Linked DNA regions of Homo sapiens: region 1 is linked to region 2. Evidence: fine-mapped expression QTL. A gene starts in region 2. The other region holds a variant in brackets. All regions are shown on one strand. Distances are from middle to middle.

Region 1 (2,922 bases), 52 kb after region 2:
CTGCACTCAAGCCTGGGTGACAGTAGTCAAACGTAAGACCCTGTCTCAAAATAATAATAATAATAACCCTAAAGACCTCTTTTAAATGTCTGGCTTTAGGCCAGGCGCCGTGGCTCACACCTGTAATCCCAGCACTTGGGTGGCCAAGGCGGGTGGATCACTTGAGGTCAAGAGTTTGAAACCAGCCTGGCCAATGTGGTGAAACCCTGTCTCTACTAAAAAACAAAACAAACAAACAAATGTCTGGCTTTAAGAACTCAATCATCTAGTAGGATAGAAACACACATGCACAAGTAAACATCAGGTAAATTGTCAAGTAAAATAATACAGACTGAAAAGCTATCAGAGCATAAAAGAGGGCACTATTCTGGTTGTAGTGAGAAGTCAGCAAAAGCTTCATGGAAAAGTGGCTCTTGAGACACCTCTGGACAAGCAGGGTTGAGAGTGGTAGGGAACTGCTCAAACCTTGACCACCTGTCCTTTTTGCTCCTGTTCCCCTACCACTCTCAGTCCTACTTGACTCCTATCCTGCATCAGGTCTACTCTTGCCCTGGCTCATTACCTGGACCATTTCTATCAATCTCCCCTCCCCCATGTCCCTGGAACACTATACTCTCCATATCTCTCCTTCTACTTCCCCAGCCAATTCATAATCTTCACTGGAGTTCAGTTTTCTTGTTGCTTTCTCTGCAAAGCCTTCCCATACCACCCCTGCCTTCAAACTAGTGGGCTCTCTATCATTATCTCATTGCACACCATAACTTCATATGCTTATTATACCTGCACTTAAGAATTACATGAGTTTGGATAAGCAGAGACTGTAATAAAAAAATAATAATTACATGAGTTAACTGTTTACATCTACCATATTATTACACCGTGATTATACATTCCATGAAGAGAAGGACTTTATTCTGTCTTGTTCACCGTTGTGGCTCCTGGGCCTTAAGCTTATGCCTGGCACATAGAAGATACTAAATAAATCATCAATGAATGAATTCTGTTAATTGGTTTTATATATGGTTGAATATAGCTTTGAATGCTTTCACACTCTTGATAGCTATGTTAAATTACAGGGCTTAAGGCTGGGCGCGGTGGCTCACGCCTGTAATCCCAGCACTTTGGGAGGCTGAGGCGGGCGGATCACAAGGTCAGGAGATTGAGAACATCCTGGCTAACACGGTGAAACCCCGTCTCTACTAAAAATACAAAAAATTAGCCGGGCGTGGTGGTGGGTGCCTGTAGTCCCAGCTACTCAGGAGGCTGAAGCAGGAAAATGGC[A/G]TGAACCCGGGAGGCGGAGCTTGCAATGAGTGGAGATCGCGCCACTACATTCCAGCCTGGGCAACAGAGCAAGACTCCGTCAAAAAAAAAAAAAAAAAAAAAAAAAAAAAAAAAAAAAAAAAAATTACAGGGCTTATAAGAAAGGTATGTAAGCAAATTAACTGGGCAATCCACATAGATTTTCATAACTTAAAGCAATTTCATAGAAGGCATAGTATGTAGTAGTCTTTTAATATGCTAAGTGCAACCATCTTTCTTAGTGAAAGAGAGGAAAACTAGAAATTTAACACAAAATAACAAACAATAAAAGCACACAATGTCCAGCTGGGCACAATGACTCACACCTATAATCCTTGCACTTTGGGAGGCCGAGGCAGAAGGATCGCTTGAGCCCAGGAGTTCAAGACCAGCCTGGGCAACACAGCAAGACCCTGTCTCTACAAAAAATTTAAAAATTAGCCAGGTGTGGTGGCACATGCCTGTAGTCCCAGCTACTCAAGAGGCTGAGGTGGGAGGATGGCTTGAGCCCACGAGGTCAAGGCTGAAGTGAGCTGTGTTCACACCACTACACTCCAGCCTAGGTGACAGAGCAAGACCCTGTTTCAAAAATTGAAATACATAAAAGCACACAATGCAATACTAAAACAGAAAGCACCATAATCTTTTAAATAACTTGATTTTACAGATGGCAACTTGCATTATATTAGAGTGTCTTTATATTTTTACTTTTTTTTTTTTTTTTTTTTTTTTTAGACAGAGTCTTGCTCTGTCATCAGGTTGAAGTGCAGTGGTGTGATCTGGGCTCACTGCAACCTCTGTCTCCCGGGTTCAAGTGATTCTCCTGCCTCAGCCTCCTGAGTAGCTGGGACTATAAGCACGTGCCACCACGCCCAGCTAATTTTTGTATTTTTAGCAGAGATGGGGTTTCACCATATTGGTCAGGATGGTCTCAATCTCTTAACCTTGTGATCCGCCTGCCTCTGCCTCCCAAGATGCTGGGATTACAGGTATGAGCCACCGCACCCAGCCTATATTTTTACTTTCTTAGTTACATTTAAGAGGTATCTATTCAAAGTTTACCTAAACTCAAAATATGCTCAATATTTGAAATGTCATACTTAGTCAATATTCACTTAATTTCATAATCCTTTCCAGCCTCCAAATGAAAGGATTTTAACAGTGTGTATCTATTCAATGAATACACAGTTTTGCTCTTTGTAGCAACATCCCAATACTTCATGACCAAATTTGTATCAATTAGAAGGGACAGTACTCAAGCTGATAACTTATTTATCTCACATTTATTGAATTGCTACAGAAGGAAATCATTAAAATATTTAATGTATAAATCTAAGGTTGCCTCCTAGGTCCAAATGGATTTAAATGACACTTTTTTTTTCATTTTTATAATTAGTAGAAATATTTTATTGTAAAGGCTGAATATACTAAAATGCTTGGTTTTGTGAAATCTGATTTTCCAACTGTAAGTTACAAGCACTTAGGAAAAAAGCAATCACTTAAATGAAAACTAAAAGTATAAAGCCTATGTTTAAAACATGGCCTTTATTAATACTGCCCACTGAGCTCCATTTTTATTTTACATTGAGATACTTCTGCTTTGCAAAGAAAAGACAGAAAAGT
Region 2 (2,922 bases):
TTGAGTGTCACCGCTGTATCCCCCAAAGAACAGCATTACAAAAGCGTTTTGCTGTTTTTGCTCACATATTCATTAATTTAATCCTCACAATTAGCAGCGAAGTGGGTAAAGCATATGTTATCCTTATTTTCACTGAGCTCTAGACAGATTAAGTGAATTGGAATATAGAAGCCATCAATTGGCAGAAGTCCTGCTTTTCCCACTATGAAAAGAAAGTAGTGAATTAGGTAAAAAGCACTACTTTGGGGGAAAACTATAAAAAACACTACGTGGGGGAAAATAAAGCACATTATACAAGTTAAGTGTATCCACCATAAATATAAAAAAAAAAATATGCAAAAGTCAATGCAAAAAAAAAAAAAAAAAGCACAACAGGGGACGTTAAAGTTTCATTCATTCCATCTATTCAAACATTTTATAGGCTTCCTGGCCATTTTCCCGGGAAACAGGGTCAGTTTTCAAACATCTGTACAAACTAGACTTATATCTTACGTTTGGGAATTTAAACAAATAAGGACTAAAGATTTACTAAACTAAAACTGGTTGAAAAACTACATGGAATCACATACCACGTGATGTTCCATTCAAACTAGTCCCCGTTCCAACAGGAAGACGTTTATTTGCAGACAATGCCGGAGGAACACAGGGCAACTCATCTTTCAGCAAAACCAAATGATCTCCATGATTTTGAGAAACTACCTCACGAAGTCTCTTCACTGGCATCTTAATCTTTTTTTTCTTCTCCAAGCTGACCTCAGAGCCTTTCATATTGTTGGTCACAAAACAAGTCCCACACTTAAGGACGGAAAAACTTTCTCTGTTTCCTTAAGACTTCAGAACAAAATTTTCACCTCTTTGCAATAACTGTTTTTAAAATGTCGAACATCCACAAAGCTGAAAATCTAAATTCTGATATTGAATCCAGGATTAGAGCTGACTATAAAGTCATATTTACCCATTAATCCCACTCAGTCTATTAATACACCACGCCAAAATGTGAAAGTGGGGATGACAAGAGAATGGCCACAGGAGCAACAATAACCATAACAGTGCACTCCCCAACCCCAGAGCTGGTAGGGCAAAACCAAACACATGTAGTGGCGGGCTTAAAATTTGTTGAGAAGAGGCAGTCAAGCAAATAAAAGCGAAATGCTATTTTTAAAATAATGACCCACATAAGAAGCGTAATAGCTTTCTTCAGCCACAGAGTCTTACACACCCCTCCAGATGCAATCGTCGGAAACATAAATTCACCCCTACGTATCTCCAGAACGCCCGAGACCCGCACCGTCGTGGGTGTAATCTGACAACAGCGTCAGTTGCCCGCAGGTCAACACCCACTTCCCTTCAAACCCGCCCTTGAGACACAACACGCATGCGCGCCAAGAAACTCACCCAAAACATCCAACCAGAAAGCTAAGCGCTCTCTGGTGCTCTTCCATTCCTCTCCGGGTGGAAACAAACTCCGGACATAACAGGGGTTTATTTATTTATTTATTTTAAGGTAGCACATTGCCGCACAAGACCGCTCTACAGTCTCATCCAAGACTTGAAGAGCTCCCGACTTGTAATACTACTTGTGTTTACCAGGGACTGTTGACACTGCTTCGCTTCCGAAGACCGTTAGGGACGTGGGATTAGGTAAATTAGGCTTCCAAGAAGTTTCGACAGATTCGGGTCATTATTGGAGAGGAAGTCGGGAATAGAAAGCGTTGTCTAAGCAGAAAATAACCGAAGTTAATCCTTAGGAGATTTTAGAATTCGCTGATGGTACCTGCTTTTTCTTCTAGATTTCCTCGCGTTATAACGAATCGGCGTCTAAGGGTTTAAGTGTCACTTGACATTACTGCTCCCACGTGTTCTTTCCCATCTGGCGGCCGCGGCTCCTGTCCAGACCCTGACCCTCCCTCCCAAGGCTCAACCGTCCCCCAACAACCCCCAGCCTTGTACTGATGTCGGATGCGAGAGCCTGTGCTTAAGTATGGTGTCTGTTCTCTGCCGTGAGAATCCGGGGTTCCCGGACGGGGGGTGGCAGGCTACGCTCCAGGAAAGTGGCGGGGTCTCCCGAGGAGGCCGCCGCACGTACCTGGAGCAGTGGGGGGTGCGAAGCGGGACAGCGCTTCGCCGGGTCGGGTGCAGACCTTCCTGGAGATGGTGTCACCTGGGCGAGGGTAGGAACTTTAGGCCCTGAGCCACCCCCAACCCGGATCTGGGGAGTCGGGGTCCTGTTTTGGGACACTGAATTAGACTATAAGGTATTTACGATGTGACCTTGAGCTGCCCGGGGGAAGATCCTCCTTTAAATGAAAATCGTCTTTAGACATAATACCAGGTCTAACACCCCTTCCCTGATCTGCTCATTTCCCAGGATGCGCTACTTAGAGCTTTCCCTTTACGCCTTACTGGAGGCTTTAGAATAATCAAAGCAGAAAATGTAATCCGATCTAAAAGCTAAATAACTAATTTTATTTCTTTTACATCTCGGCAGTCTACCTTCATAGAAGTCTAGACTTAAAATGGACTTTAAAGTCTGAGCGCGGTGGCTCACGCCTGTAATCCCAGCACTTTGGGAGGCCAAGGCGGGCGGATCACGAGATCAGGAGTTCGAGACCAGCCTGGCCAGCAAGGTGAAACCCCGCCTCTACTGAAAATACAAAAAATTAACTGGGCATGGTGGCGCGCGCCTGTAGTCCCAGCTACTCAGGAGGCTGAGGCAAGAGAATTGCTTGAACCCGGCAGGTGGAGGTTGCAGTGAGCTGAGATCGCGCCATTGTGCTCCAGCCTGAGTGACAGATCAAGACTGTCTTAAAAAAAAAAGAAAAAAAAAGACTTTAAGGGCTCAGCGTTAAAGACCCTTTTAATTATTATTTTTTTGTAACTTGCTGAGTTTCTCTAATGAGTTTTGTGTTGTTTTTTGAGACA

Direction of the effects. Positions count from the first base shown, and alleles are read on the strand shown. Sizes are in standard deviations (SD) of each study's normalised expression.
In carriers of allele A in region 1, the expression in tibial nerve of the gene that starts at base 1,314 in region 2 tends to be lower than with G alone (large effect, 0.78 SD a copy in GTEx).

What was found. PIP is the estimated chance that this variant, and not a neighbour inherited with it, causes the effect.
Region 1: its variant is the best candidate, but not a certain one, in a credible set for the expression of KIAA0586 in tibial nerve (GTEx, PIP 0.69).

What each region holds. Positions count from the first base shown.
Region 1 is chr14:58,373,637-58,376,558 of GRCh38, reverse strand. ARID4A (AT-rich interaction domain 4A) reads right to left here. Exons shown (of 24, transcript NM_002892.4): 24 at 2,683-2,922. The region is part of intron 1 of TOMM20L-DT (TOMM20L divergent transcript); the gene reads left to right. Among named protein-coding and RNA genes, the nearest start is that of TOMM20L-DT, 21 kb to the left of the region's middle. The variant A/G (reference allele first, on the strand shown) is at 1,282.
Region 2 is chr14:58,426,111-58,429,032 of GRCh38, reverse strand. It overlaps KIAA0586, which reads right to left and starts at 1,314. Exons shown (of 31, transcript NM_001329943.3): 1 at 570-1,314. The coding sequence starts at 768. TIMM9 (translocase of inner mitochondrial membrane 9) reads left to right here and starts at 1,502. Exons shown (of 6, transcript NM_012460.4): 1 at 1,502-1,641; 2 at 1,791-1,979. RefSeq lists enhancers at 1,043-1,232, 1,303-1,352, 2,367-2,922.